Linked DNA regions of Homo sapiens. The protein of the gene in region 2 interacts with the protein of the main gene of each other region in a pairwise test. Each region holds a gene or a part of one and is shown on either strand. Other genes may lie near its edges.

Evidence for each region.
Region 1: the proteins of NMI (region 2) and LCA5L interact in binary tests that used the Homo sapiens proteins (3 or more experiments, as listed by UniProt).

The regions. Positions count from the first base shown.
Region 1 is NC_000021.9:39,404,068-39,407,796, reverse strand, and holds the end of LCA5L (lebercilin-like protein), read left to right. Parts: exon of another isoform or gene 1-4; intron 5-1,065; exon of another isoform or gene 1,066-1,184; coding exon 1,185-1,915; 3' UTR 1,916-2,069; downstream 2,070-3,729.
Region 2 is NC_000002.12:151,272,615-151,281,762, reverse strand, and holds part of NMI (N-myc-interactor), read left to right. Parts: intron 1-2,772; coding exon 2,773-2,935; intron 2,936-5,898; coding exon 5,899-6,005; intron 6,006-6,092; coding exon 6,093-6,279; intron 6,280-9,148. UniProt on the Homo sapiens protein: Acts as a signaling pathway regulator involved in innate immune system response.

The sequences.
Region 1 (3,729 bases), on a different chromosome or scaffold from region 2:
TGTCCTAGAAAGTGTATCCATTCATTTGACAAATACTTTCTGAGCATGCACTATGTGTCTGACACTGTTCTAGGCATTAGGGAGACAGGAGGAAGCAAATGCAAAACCCTGCCCTCATGTGCTTATATTCTGTAGTGGGAACATCCTTCCCCATCAGTTCACATGGATCCAGCTCATTGTCTATAATAACTGCCTGGAATTCCACAGACTGCACGTGCCATACCTTATTTAACCATTATTCCTTTGGCAGATGTTTAGGAGGTTTTATTGTTACTAACCCACGCCACAGTGAACATCGTTGCACTTATCCTTGTCTATTTTTTGTAGGTTCGTTCTAAGAAGAAGTTGTTAGGTCTAAGAGTATATTCACCTAAAATCTTGATACTGCCAAATTGCCATCCAAAAATGCTGTACCAACAACACACCCACCAGCGGGGACCAAACATTCCAATTTCCCCATCTTCTCACCAGCTCTAGAAATTATTTGCCAATTGGATGGATGAAAAATGTTCTCATTGTGTCCTGTTCTGTTCTGTTCTGTTCTTCTGTTCTGTTTTGTTTTGTTTTGTTTTGAAACAGCTCTGCTCTGTTGCCCAAGCTGGTATGCAGTGGCACAGTCACGGCTCACTGCAGTCTTGTCCTCCTGGGCTCAAGTGATCCTCCCACCTTAGCCTCCTGAGTAGCCAAGACTACAGGCAGACACCACCACACCCAGCTAATTTTTGTATTTTTTGTAGAGACAGGGTTTCGCTATGTTGCCCAGGCTGGTCTCAGACTCTTGGGCTCAAACAGTCCTCCTGCCTCAGCCTCCCAAAGTGCCGGAATTACAGGTGTGAGCCACTGCACCCAGCCATCATTGTTTCAACTGGCAGTATGTCCAGTTAGTGATGTTAAACATCTATTAATAACCTTATTGGCAAATTTTATTTCTTCTTCTATGAATGTCATTTTTCTTTTGGTTTCATAATTCCCATCTGCTTGGGAAGTTCCAAGAAACTGTAACATAACACATTTGTTAATAGCACCTTTCTCTGTAATCTTTTGTCTATGCATCTATTTTCTTACCTTTTCTGTCATTTCAGTGTGCTTGTGAGGCGGTGCACGTAAGTGTACTAGACATGCCATCTTGAAATAGAGATCCATTCATTTTAAACAGCACTAAATTGCCTATTTTTCTAATATAGATTTATCAGGGGAAGAGAAACATTTGGAAGTCCAAATACTGCTGGAGAATACTGGAAGACAAAAAGACAAAAAAGAAGACCAAGAAAAGAAAAACATTTTTGTGAAAGAAGAGCAAGAACTACCACCAAAAATAATTGAAGTTATTCATCCTGAAAGAGAAAGCAATCAAGAAGATGTTCTAGTAAGAGAAAAGTTTAAAAGAAGCATGCAGAGAAATGGTGTGGATGACACACTTGGCAAAGGCACTGCTCCCTACACGAAAGGCCCCCTCAGACAAAGAAGACATTACTCATTCACAGAAGCAACTGAAAACCTGCATCATGGGCTTCCTGCTTCAGGGGGGCCAGCCAATGCCGGCAACATGAGGTACAGTCATAGTACAGGCAAGCATCTCAGTAACAGAGAGGAAATGGAGCTAGAGCATTCTGACAGTGGGTATGAGCCCTCATTTGGTAAGTCTTCCAGAATAAAAGTGAAGGATACAACTTTCAGAGATAAGAAAAGCAGTCTCATGGAAGAACTCTTTGGATCAGGCTATGTCTTGAAAACTGACCAATCAAGTCCTGGTGTTGCAAAAGGCTCAGAGGAGCCTTTGCAAAGTAAGGAGTCGCATCCCCTGCCTCCCAGTCAGGCCTCCACCAGCCATGCTTTCGGAGACTCTAAAGTAACTGTGGTAAATTCTATTAAGCCATCGTCACCTACAGAAGGAAAAAGAAAAATAATTATTTAAATATAATCAATATCCTAATGCATTCTGGTTTGATATAATGCTGCTTATGTGCCTTGCATCTTATTTTTGAAATGTGTGAGAGAGGGAGTGTATGTATGTGTGTGTTTTAGTACTTAATTGACTTTCGATAATTAAATTTTTGTTTGATTGCTAATCTAGTAAAAAATCTATTTTATATTAGCCAATGATAACACTTCAAATACAAATTTACATCTTTACAACTGAAACATCCATTATCTTCTGGAAGACTGGTTTACTATATGGTTTTAGTATTCTGTGGGACTCCATAGCTAGTAACTCTTAAGTTAGTCAACCCAAGACATGCATCTCCTACACAACAAAATTTATCAGCAATAGAGTTGAATTGTAACTTAAAAACATGGAAGCAGGCCAGATGCAGTGGTTCTTGCCTGTAATCCCAGCATTTTAGGAGGCCAAGGTGGGAGGATCACTTGAGTCCAGGAGTTTAAGACCAGCCTGGCCAACATGGTACAACCCCGTCTCTACAAAAATTATAAGAATTAGCCAGGTGTGGTGGTGTGTGCCTGTAGTCCCAGCTACTTGGGAGGCTGAGGTCAAAGAATCACTTGTGCCCAGGTCGAGGCTTCAGTGAGCATGATCGTGCCACTGCACTCTAGCTTGGGCAATCGGAGTGAGACCGTGTCTCAAAAAATAAAAACAAAATGTGGCAGCAGCTTTGAAAGGGAACAATATGATCAAAAGACTCTTTTTACTAAAAAAAAAAAATAGGCTGGGTGCCATGGCTCACGCCAGTAATCCCAACACTTTGGGAGACCGAGGTAGGTGGATCACCTGAGGTTAGGAGTTTGAGACCAGCCTGGCCAACATGGTGAAACCCTGTCTCTACTAAAAATACAAAAAATCAGCTGGGTGTGGTGGCACATGCCTGTAATGGCAGCTACCCAGGAGGCTGAGGCAGGAGAATCGCTGGAACCCCAGGAGGCAGAGGCTGCAGTGAACCAAAATAACACCACTGCACCCTAGCCTGGGTGACAGAGCGAGACTCCATCTCAAAAAAAAAAAAAAATACATATATGTATGTATGTGTGTATATATATAGTGATTACCAAGCTTAGTTTCATGAAAATCTTTTTTTTTTTTTTTTTTTTTGACAGTGTCTCAGTGTGTCACCCAGGCTGGAGTGCAGTGATAACAATCTTGGCTCACTGCAACCTCCGCCCTGCCGGGGTTCAAGCGATTCTCGTGTCTCAGCCTACAGAGTAGCTGGGATTACAGGCATGCACCACCACACCCAGCTAATTTTTCTATTTTTATTAGAGACTAAAAATGGTTTTGCCATGTTAGCCAGGCTGGTCTTGAACTCCTGACCTCAGGTGATCTGCCCACCTCAGCCTCCCAAAGTGCTGGGAATGACAGGCGTGAGCCACCGTGCCCAGCCATGAAAATCATTTTTGAGTTTCTCTTATTCAGCTAACCTGGGTATCCAATGTCCTGCCTTTGTGGGTGATGCTTTCCTTGTGTACACCTGAGATCCAGTATCATTTATTGAGATTTGTTGCATACCTGTATGTTGACCATTTTTCTGTTAACCTTGTTCTAAAAACCATAAAACAGTACCATGGCCCTGCTGGTGTTTATTCGAGCTAGCTGCTCAGTCCTAACTAATATATTTACTAAACTTAGGATATTTTAAATTAGGACTGTAAAAAGGAGGCTATACTCCCAGCCTCACTTTATTTAGCTTACTTCATTTAGTTATAAGGGCAACTTGTTTATAATCTAGACCATACTATTTCCTTTCCAATGATGTTTATGTGTTGGTGTGTAATATT
Region 2 (9,148 bases):
GTATAGTCATATGATAGAAAACTACACAGCAATGAGAATGAACAGATCATAATGACATGCAGCAACACAAATGAGTTTCATAAACACAATGTTAACACAAAAAAGACAGAAGAGGGCATACCATATGCTTCCCTTTAAATTAAGCAAAAGCAGGATGTTTGAAGTTAAAACAGTGGTTATTTTGGAAGCAGGTAAGACCCAGAAGGGAACCCAAGGGGGTTTCTGGGGTGTTGTCATGTCCTGCCTATCATCTGCGTGCCAATCACGTGTGTTAGCTTTGTAAAATTTCATCTTGCTGTACTTAATGATACATGCATTTTTCTATTATTTACGTACACTTTAATAAATTTACAAAAACAAAAAATTAATAAAATTTACCAAAAAAAGATGGTCATTAGCAAATTACTGTTGGATCAAATTCTGGCTTTTCTCACTGAGTTCTTTTATAATTCTTCTCATCCAAGGTGCTTTGGTAATTTAGATGAGTTTCACGGTTCAAAAAATTGGACATATATTAATCCTCACCATTTAAATTCTCTCCTAAATTTTCCTGTATTTTAATTGTACATAATTTTCACCCATTTTTTTTCTTAACAACTCAGATGTTAAAAAATTAAAGCATTGAGGCTGGGCGCGGTGGCTCATGCCTGTAATCCCAGCACTTTGGGAGGCTGAGGCGGGTGGATCATGGGGTCAGGAATTCACGACCAGCCTGGCTAAGATGGTGAAACCCTGTCTCTACTAAAAAAGAAAAATTAGCCAGGCATGGTGGCGGGTGCCTGTATCCCAGCTACTTGGGAGGCTGAGGCAGAGAATTGCTTGAACCTGGGAGGCGGAGGTCGCGATGAGCTGAGATCACACCACTGTGCTCCAGCCTGGGCGACAGAGCGAGGCGCCGCCTAAAAAAAAAAAAATTAAAGCATTGACACTTCTTGTTTCTGAAGTGGGAGATAGGATATTGAATATCAGGAAGTGAGGTTTTCTGTGTTTATGAGATGGGTGACTTTGTGCAGAAGACTCTGTTAAGATTCTGGTTACTTCTCAGACTGGAGCTAGAATCATGCAGTCTTATAACTCAAAGAGCCTTTAGAAACCGGCCAGCCCTAGTCGACCCACTTTGCAGAGGACCAAACCTGTGATCAGAGAGCTTAAGTAAATTTGCTGTCTGTCGCAGTGTGGTCAGAAATAGAATCAAGCTTTCTCACTCTAATTTCAGAAAGCCCTTGCTCCTCAGCATATACTGGGTATTTCTGCATTATTGGGTAACACTCTGCCTTTACTCAGACATTGTAGACTGTTTTGATGTCAGCCTTACCGTAATCAGAAGTTCCACTGGAGTTATGCATAAAGGCAAAGAATAAATGTAAGATTAAATTGAATGACTCACTGAATATTTCTAATCTCTGTGTTATTTTCAGCATGTAAAATAACCATGGGCAATAGAAATGCAAGCATCTATCTCATTTGTGCATTTATGTGTAGTTATATGAATCTGTTAATCCCAATAATTCTAAGCAGCTAAGTATAACCACCTACCTTTATCTTTCAGGTTACAATTTTTTTTTTTGAAACAGAGTTTTGTTCTTGTTGCCCAGGCTGGAATGCAATGGTGCGATCTCGGTTCACTACAACATCCGCCTCCCTGGTTCAAGCGATTCTCCTGCCTCAGCCTCCTGAATAGCCAGGATTACAGGCGTTTGCCACCACGCCCAGCTAATTTTTGTATTTTTAGTAGAGATGGGTTTTACCATGTTGGCCAGGCTGGTCTCAAACTCCTGACCTCAGGTGATCTGCCTGCTTTGGCCTCCCAAAGTGCTGGGATTACGAGTGTGAGCCACCTGTGTAGCCTCAGCTTACAATTTCTGTTGATACTGTCCCTTCTCATTTTTTATAAACCTAAGTTGTGGTAATGGTTAAAAAGTTGATGGGCAGGTGTTGGGGAAGGTGGAATTTTTAAATTTGATAAATTTAACATCATCTAATTCTGGGCCAGGTGTGGTGGCTCACGCCTGTAATCCCAGCGCTTTGGGAGACCAAGGCAGGCAGATCATGAGGTCAAGAGACCATCCTGGCCAACGTGGTGAAACCCTGTCTTTGCTAAAAATACAAAATACAGAAATTAGCTCGGTGTGGTAGCGCATGCCTGTAGTTCCAGCTACGCGGGAGACTGAGGCAGGAGAATTGTTTGAACCCGGGAGGTGGAGGTTGCAGTGAGCCGAGATCACACCACTGTACTCCAGCCTGGCAACAGAGTGAGACTCTGTCTCAAAATAAATAAATAAATAAATAAAATTATCTAATTCTAGAGTCTTTCTTTTTGGATGAAATTATCTGGATTTGAAATACCATATTATACCCAACACTATATTTCATACTTTGCAGCAAAATTAAACATACTATCTAATGATTTCCTTTTGAGATAGTCTATTATTGGCACTTGTTTAAAAAGTCCTTATTCACATGAATGATGTAGGCTTTAGAACTGAACACCATACAATATTGACAGTTTAAACATTGATTAGAAAAAAGTGAGAGGATTATATATTTTTAATTTCATCTGTGAAATGATATTAAAAGATCAGCATTTGATTACTGAGTACTTACATGGGAAAAAGCAATTACTAAAAATGTTAAATAAGACCATACTCAATATTCTACAAGGTTCTAAAATTAGTGGGGAATGAATTATTGGATGACCAAATTACATTATCATTGGAAGGACTTAAGTTATTTCTCGTCTTGATTTTAATCAAACATTTTCATTTGGATTAGATTAAAGAGGATATTCCTGAAACAAAGATGAAATTCTTATCAGTTGAAACTCCTGAGAATGACAGCCAGTTGTCAAATATCTCCTGTTCGTTTCAAGTGAGCTCGAAAGTTCCTTATGAGATACAAAAAGGACAAGCACTTATCACCTTTGAAAAAGAAGAAGGTATGACTAATGTTAAAAAATATGACCATGTTATTTGGAAAGCACTTTCATAGACATTTAGCTATTACTTCGCTAATATTACTTCACTTATATTATTTCTTATCCTCATAGTGACGTTCTGAGGCAGGTATGATTATTCCCATTTTACAGATGAGAAAACTGACTCTGAGACAAGTGCCTTGAATATGATCTTGTATTCAGAAAGCCATGACTGTGGGACTTAATCCAGGTGCTATGATGATGTCCAATACCAGCCTCTTTCTACTCCACATGCTACCTCCAAATAATGATAGTAATATTTCAAGGTAGTAGAGCTGTACAGTTCTCAGAGACATTATCACATTTTATACTCACACAATTCCATAAATATAGGAGGATAGGATAGTTATTATTGTGTACTTTAAATATAGACATGCCAGAGCCAAGAAAACAGATTCTGAGGATGTTTAAGTGATTTACCTAAGGGAACATAGCCAACGAATGAGAAGAGCCTGGGAGCTAGAGATTTGGAATGAAACCTAATGTTTGCTAAGTCTGCCATGGTGAGGGCCCCTGTTCAGAGCTGGGGGTTCCTGAGTGGGGAGGATCTGGCTTTGAGTGCCAGCCTTGTCCCTTCCTAGAAGCATGATTTGGGATAGGTTCTTTATAAACCTCAGGGTTTTATACAGGTGCTTCATGGTAGTACCTACTTCATGAGGCTGCTTTGAGTATTAAATGAGAAATGTTGATAAAATACTTAGCACAATGTTGGACACTTAATACAAACTTAATGGATGTTAGTTTTTGCTACATGTTAGAAATTTTTCAGATAAGGATACAGAAGCTTAAAGAAGATAATTAACTTGCTTAAAGTCTATACGGTTAGTTGCAGAGCTTAGAGCCAAACCCTGAGAGTCCATGTACTTCCACTGGGCCAATATTTCTCTCGGTAGGCCACCAGCCCAGGCCTTTGTTCTTTTATTTAAGTTATGTGGTGAGGGACCAGATGGTGTTCCCAGCCCTTCCAGTGCTCATATTCTGACAGTCTATAACCCATGTTTCCTCAAAACTGGTGCACCACTGTAGCCTGAAAATAAATGTTGAAAGGCATTCCAGCAGGACAGTATCTGTGCGTAGAAGACATGCATCGCCAGTGTGTTTTCCTTCACCCTGGAGCTACTGCTACAGGTAGAAGAGGAGTCCAGGACTCATACTGGCGACTGGTAATCGGGATATAACTAAAAGATAGATATAAATGAGGATTTGGGAGGCAGGATTTCTGCACAGCAATTTCCTGGGAATGTTGGAAATGGAATTCTCTAAAAGCACCTACATCATTGCTTCTACGCTTGACGTGGCTCTGAGCTCCCAATCTCCTGGGACAGCAGTAGGTTTGAAACACAATTAAGTAGGAGTTGGCTCTTGATTGTCAGAGTCACAACAATTGAGACACAAGCGGTCCCTCTCAGCTGTATCAGATCACCAGATGTTGGGGGTTTGTGGAAGAGTGGGAGGGAAAGAGGATCATCTGAGTATTACTCATTGATATTTTCTGTTATTGTCTGTTGTCATTAGCAAAAAAACACAAAAACACAAAAAAACAAAAAACCATCATCCAAGTTATAGAGTCATATTTTGGTACAGTGAGTTGAATTCCCACATGGCCAAGGCCCTGCCTTCTGGCCCTTTTTTCTCTTCCTCCAGCTGTGGTGTGGTGCCATCTGGTCTGGTTGTCATAAACACATGTGAAGTTTTATAAGACAGAGAGTGAATGTCACTTATTTTCATGATACATTGGAATAGCAGCCCCAAATATCAACAACTGCAGTATTATAAACTCATGCCACACAATTAAAAATAAATGCCCACTCACATTTTTAATTGACATAGAGTTGCCTTTTGGAGTGCTAGTGATTTTTAGCATTTTACTAAACCTCTCCCATTTGCACAGGTAAATTAGACTTGACAGCTTTGTGATCAATATAGCAGGACTATCAACTTTTTAAAGAATGATTTCAAGAGCATTTTTGCAAAAGTGGAATTCGTCATTAAGTATGACCAAAAAAAAGACTCACTCTTTGATGTTCCAGCCTATGTAGTCTTTAACATGTAATCCTTGAGAAGACAGAGCAAATGAATATATATTGCTCTAGTGCTTGTAACATATTAAGGAGTAACAAATGATAAGGTTAAGTAAAATCAAGACTAATTGTACAAATGACACTTAGCCATGAAAGTTTTCCCAGCTTACTGAACATGGGACACTTTCTGGCTGTGCATTAATGTACTAGGGGAATCCTCTGGTAATTGTTAATAGTGGAAGGAAGGGTATGTGGCTGAGCTGAAGTAATATATGAATTCTGGAAGATTGTTAGGCTTATCTCTTAAGAGATAAGAGAAAAGATTCATCTTATGAGAAGAATCTAGAACTTGAGAACTTCTACATTGTGATTTTGCTGATATACTTTGACATTAATATATTCTACTTTGGGACCAAGAGCAGTGGCTCATCCTGATAATACCAGAACTTTGTCTGGGAGTCCGATGCAGGAGGATTGCTTGAGTCCAGGAGTTCCAGAGCAGCCTGGGTAACAAAGTGAGAGCTCGTCTCTACAAAAAGTTAAAAAAATTAGCTAGGCGTGGTGGCATGCACCTGTAATCATAGCTATTCTGGAAGCTGAGGTGGGAGGATCTCTTGAGCCCAGGAGTTTGAGGTTACAGTGAGCTATGATCACATCACTGCATTCCAGCTTCAGTGACAGAATGAGATCTGGTCCTCCTTCCCCCTGACCCCCCAAATTATATATTCTACTTTGGTAGCAAGACCATTATCACTTGGAATCACCGCCCGCCAAATTTTTAAAATTAGACCCTTTAATATTAAAGAAAATTAAAAATATTCAGGATAATTTGTTCTTAAACCAAAAGCATAACAATTCTTAAAATATTGGAAATTAATACTTCCTTCCTGAATTATTTTTCAGTTGCTCAAAATGTGGTAAGCATGAGTAAACATCATGTACAGATAAAAGATGTAAATCTGGAGGTTACGGCCAAGCCAGTTCCATTAAATTCAGGAGTCAGATTCCAGGTAACAGGATGATTAAAATTTTTTGGATTTCTGTTCATCACAAGCACTTCTCTCATCCATATTTCTGAACATCAAATCATTTTCCAGGTTTATGTAGAAGTTTCTAAAATGAAAATCAATGTTACTGAAATTCCTGACACATTGCGTGAAGATCAAATGAGAGACAAACTAGAGCTGAGCTTTTCAAAGTCCCGAAATGGAGGCGGAGAGGTGGACCGCGTGGACTATGACAGACAGTCCGGGAGTGCAGTCATCACGTTTGTGGAGATTGGAGGTACTCAAGGGTGTAGAAGGTTAACAGACACTCTGCCATTTCAGTCATGTTCTGTTGTTTCTGAAAGTATTCCTATTCTACTTCTTTTATTTGGAATGTATTAGCATGATAATTGGGGATTTTAAAAAACCTTATAAAATAGTAGAGTGTAGGAAATTATTTCCAGGGACAGTACTAGGAAAGATAATATTGCTACAAATAGGCAGGGTGCAGTGGCTCACCCCTGTAATCCCAGCACTTTGGGAGGCGGAGGCAGGCGGATCACTTGAGGTCAGGAGTTCAAGACCAGCCTGTCCAACATGGCGAAACCCCATCTCTACTAAAAATACAAAAATTAGCCAGGCATGGTGGCAAGTGCCTGTAATCCCAGCTACTTGGGAGGCTGAGGCAGGGAGAATCACTTGAACCCAGGAGGTGGAGGTTGCAGTGAGCTGAGATCACCAGGCATAGTGGTGCGTGCCTGTGGTCCCAGCTACTCAGGAGGCTGAGGTGGGAGGATTACTTGAGGCCAGGAGGTTGAGGCTGCAGTGACCTGTGATTGCACCACTGCACTACAGCCTGGGAGACAGAGTGAGACCCTGTCTCAAAAAACAAAATTAAAAAAAAAAATTGATGGATTAGATTTTTTCATGACAAAGTAATACATGCTTTTTTAAGGAAGGTGAAATAATACAGAAGAGCAAACATTTAGTAAAAATGAGACATTTCGGCCGGGCCCGGTGGCTCATGCCTGTAATCCCAGCACTTTGGGAGGCCGAGGCAGGCAGATCATGAGGTGAGGAGTTCGAGACCAGCCTGACTAACATGGTGAAACCCCGTCTCTACTAAAAATACAAAAAAATTAGCCAGGTGTGGTGGCGCATGCCTGTAATCCCAGCTACTCGGGGGGCTCAGGCAGGAGAATAGCTTGAACCCAGGAGGTGGAGGTTGCAGTGAGCCGAGACTACGCCACTGCACTCCAGCTTGGGCGACAGAGTGAGACTCCGTCTCAAAAAAAAACAAAAAGAGACATTTCCTCAAACTTCCCTTTCTCCTACTATTTAGTTAGTTATGGTTATTTGGGTGTCTTTCCAGGCTTTTCTCTGGGCACATTAAAACATGTCAATATCCTTTTTTTTTTTTTTTTTTTTTTTTTTTTTGTGAGACAGAGTCTTGCTCTGTCGCCCGGGCTGGAGTGCAGTGGCACTATCTCAGCTCACTGCAACCTCCGCTTCCCGGGTTCAAGCAATTCTCCCACCTCAGCCTCCCGAGTAGCTGGAATTACAAGTGCATGCCACCATGCCTGACTAATTTTTGTATTTTTGGTAGAGACGGGGTTTCACCATGTTGGTCAGGTTGGTCTCGAACTCCTGACTTCAAGTGATACGCCCGCCTTGGCTTCCCAAAGTGCTGGGATTACAAGCATGAGCCGCCGCTCCTGGCCCAATATGCATTTTTGACCTGAGCTTTTGGATGATGTTTAGGACATCCTGGTGGGATGTGTCAGGGAGAGCTATAAAAGGAAGGGGTCTTGAGGGCTACAGTAATATGTTGTCTTGGAAATGAACAATAACTTGGTGGAAACTTCCATAGTCAAGCATCCAGATTTTAATTTGCCAAATTCATATATTCATTTAGCCTGTTTGGTGTTAGTTTGTCTATATCTTGGATTTTAAAAAATCTGGCCAGGCGCAGTGGCTCATGCCTATAATCCCAGCACTTTGGGAGGCGGAGGCGGGTGGATCACTTGAGGCCAGGAGTTCAAGACCAGCCTGGCCAACATCGCGAGACCCCTTCTCCACCAAAAATACAAAAATTAGCGGATGTGCTGGCTCACGCCTATAGTCCCAACTACTTGGGAGGCTGAGGCAGGAGAATTGCTTGAACCTGGGGGGTGGAGGTTGCAGGGAGCTGAGATTGCATCACTGCACTCCAGCCTGGGTGACAGAGTGAGACTCGGTCTCAAAAAAACCGAAATAAAATAAATAAAATAAAATAAACTAGAATGCAATTTATAACTCTACTGTGAGAGATAATACTAGCTTTGGAACCTGTGTCCTTGGGCCATCTGGGGATGTTCTCCTAGAGGTTACATCTAGCCAGATGGGAAAAATACTTCTGCAGGTTATAGGTTATCCAGCAGGTAACTACTGAAGGATGTGAAGGTATTCTGGAGATAAATATGCCAGATACTTCATAAACTGTGTCTTACTGACTCATCACAATAATCTACAGGGTAGGTACTGTAATTATGCTTATTTTACAGAAAAAGAAACTGAGGCTTTAAGAAGTCAAGCAACATATCCAAGGCCACATAGCTCATAAGTAGCAGAGCTAGGACTGAAGCTGGTCTATTTGACTCAGGACCTGTACTCTTTTTTTTTTTTTTAACTGTGATAAAATATATATAACATAAAATTTACCATTTTAACAATTTTTAAATGTACAATTCAAGGGTACTAAGTACATTCACAATGTTGTACAACCATCACCACTATCCATCTCTAGAACTTTTTAATCACCCCAAACTGAAACTCTGTACCCATTTAACAATAATTCTCCATTACCTCTTCTTCCAGCCCCTGGTAACCATCATTCTACTTTCTGTCTCTATGAATTTGCCTATTCTAGGTACCTCATTCAAGTGGAATTATACAATATTTGTCCTTTTCCTGTCTGTCTTATTTTGGTTAGCATAATGTTATCAGGGTCCATCCATGTTGTGGTATGTATCAGAATTTCATCCTTTTTAAAGGCTGAATAATATTCTCTGTGTGTGTGTGTATTTTATATATCCATTTTGTTGATCTGTTCATCTGTTGGTGGATGCTTGGGTTGCTTCCACCTTTTGCCTATTGTGAAAAATACTGCTCTGAGCATTAACGAGCAA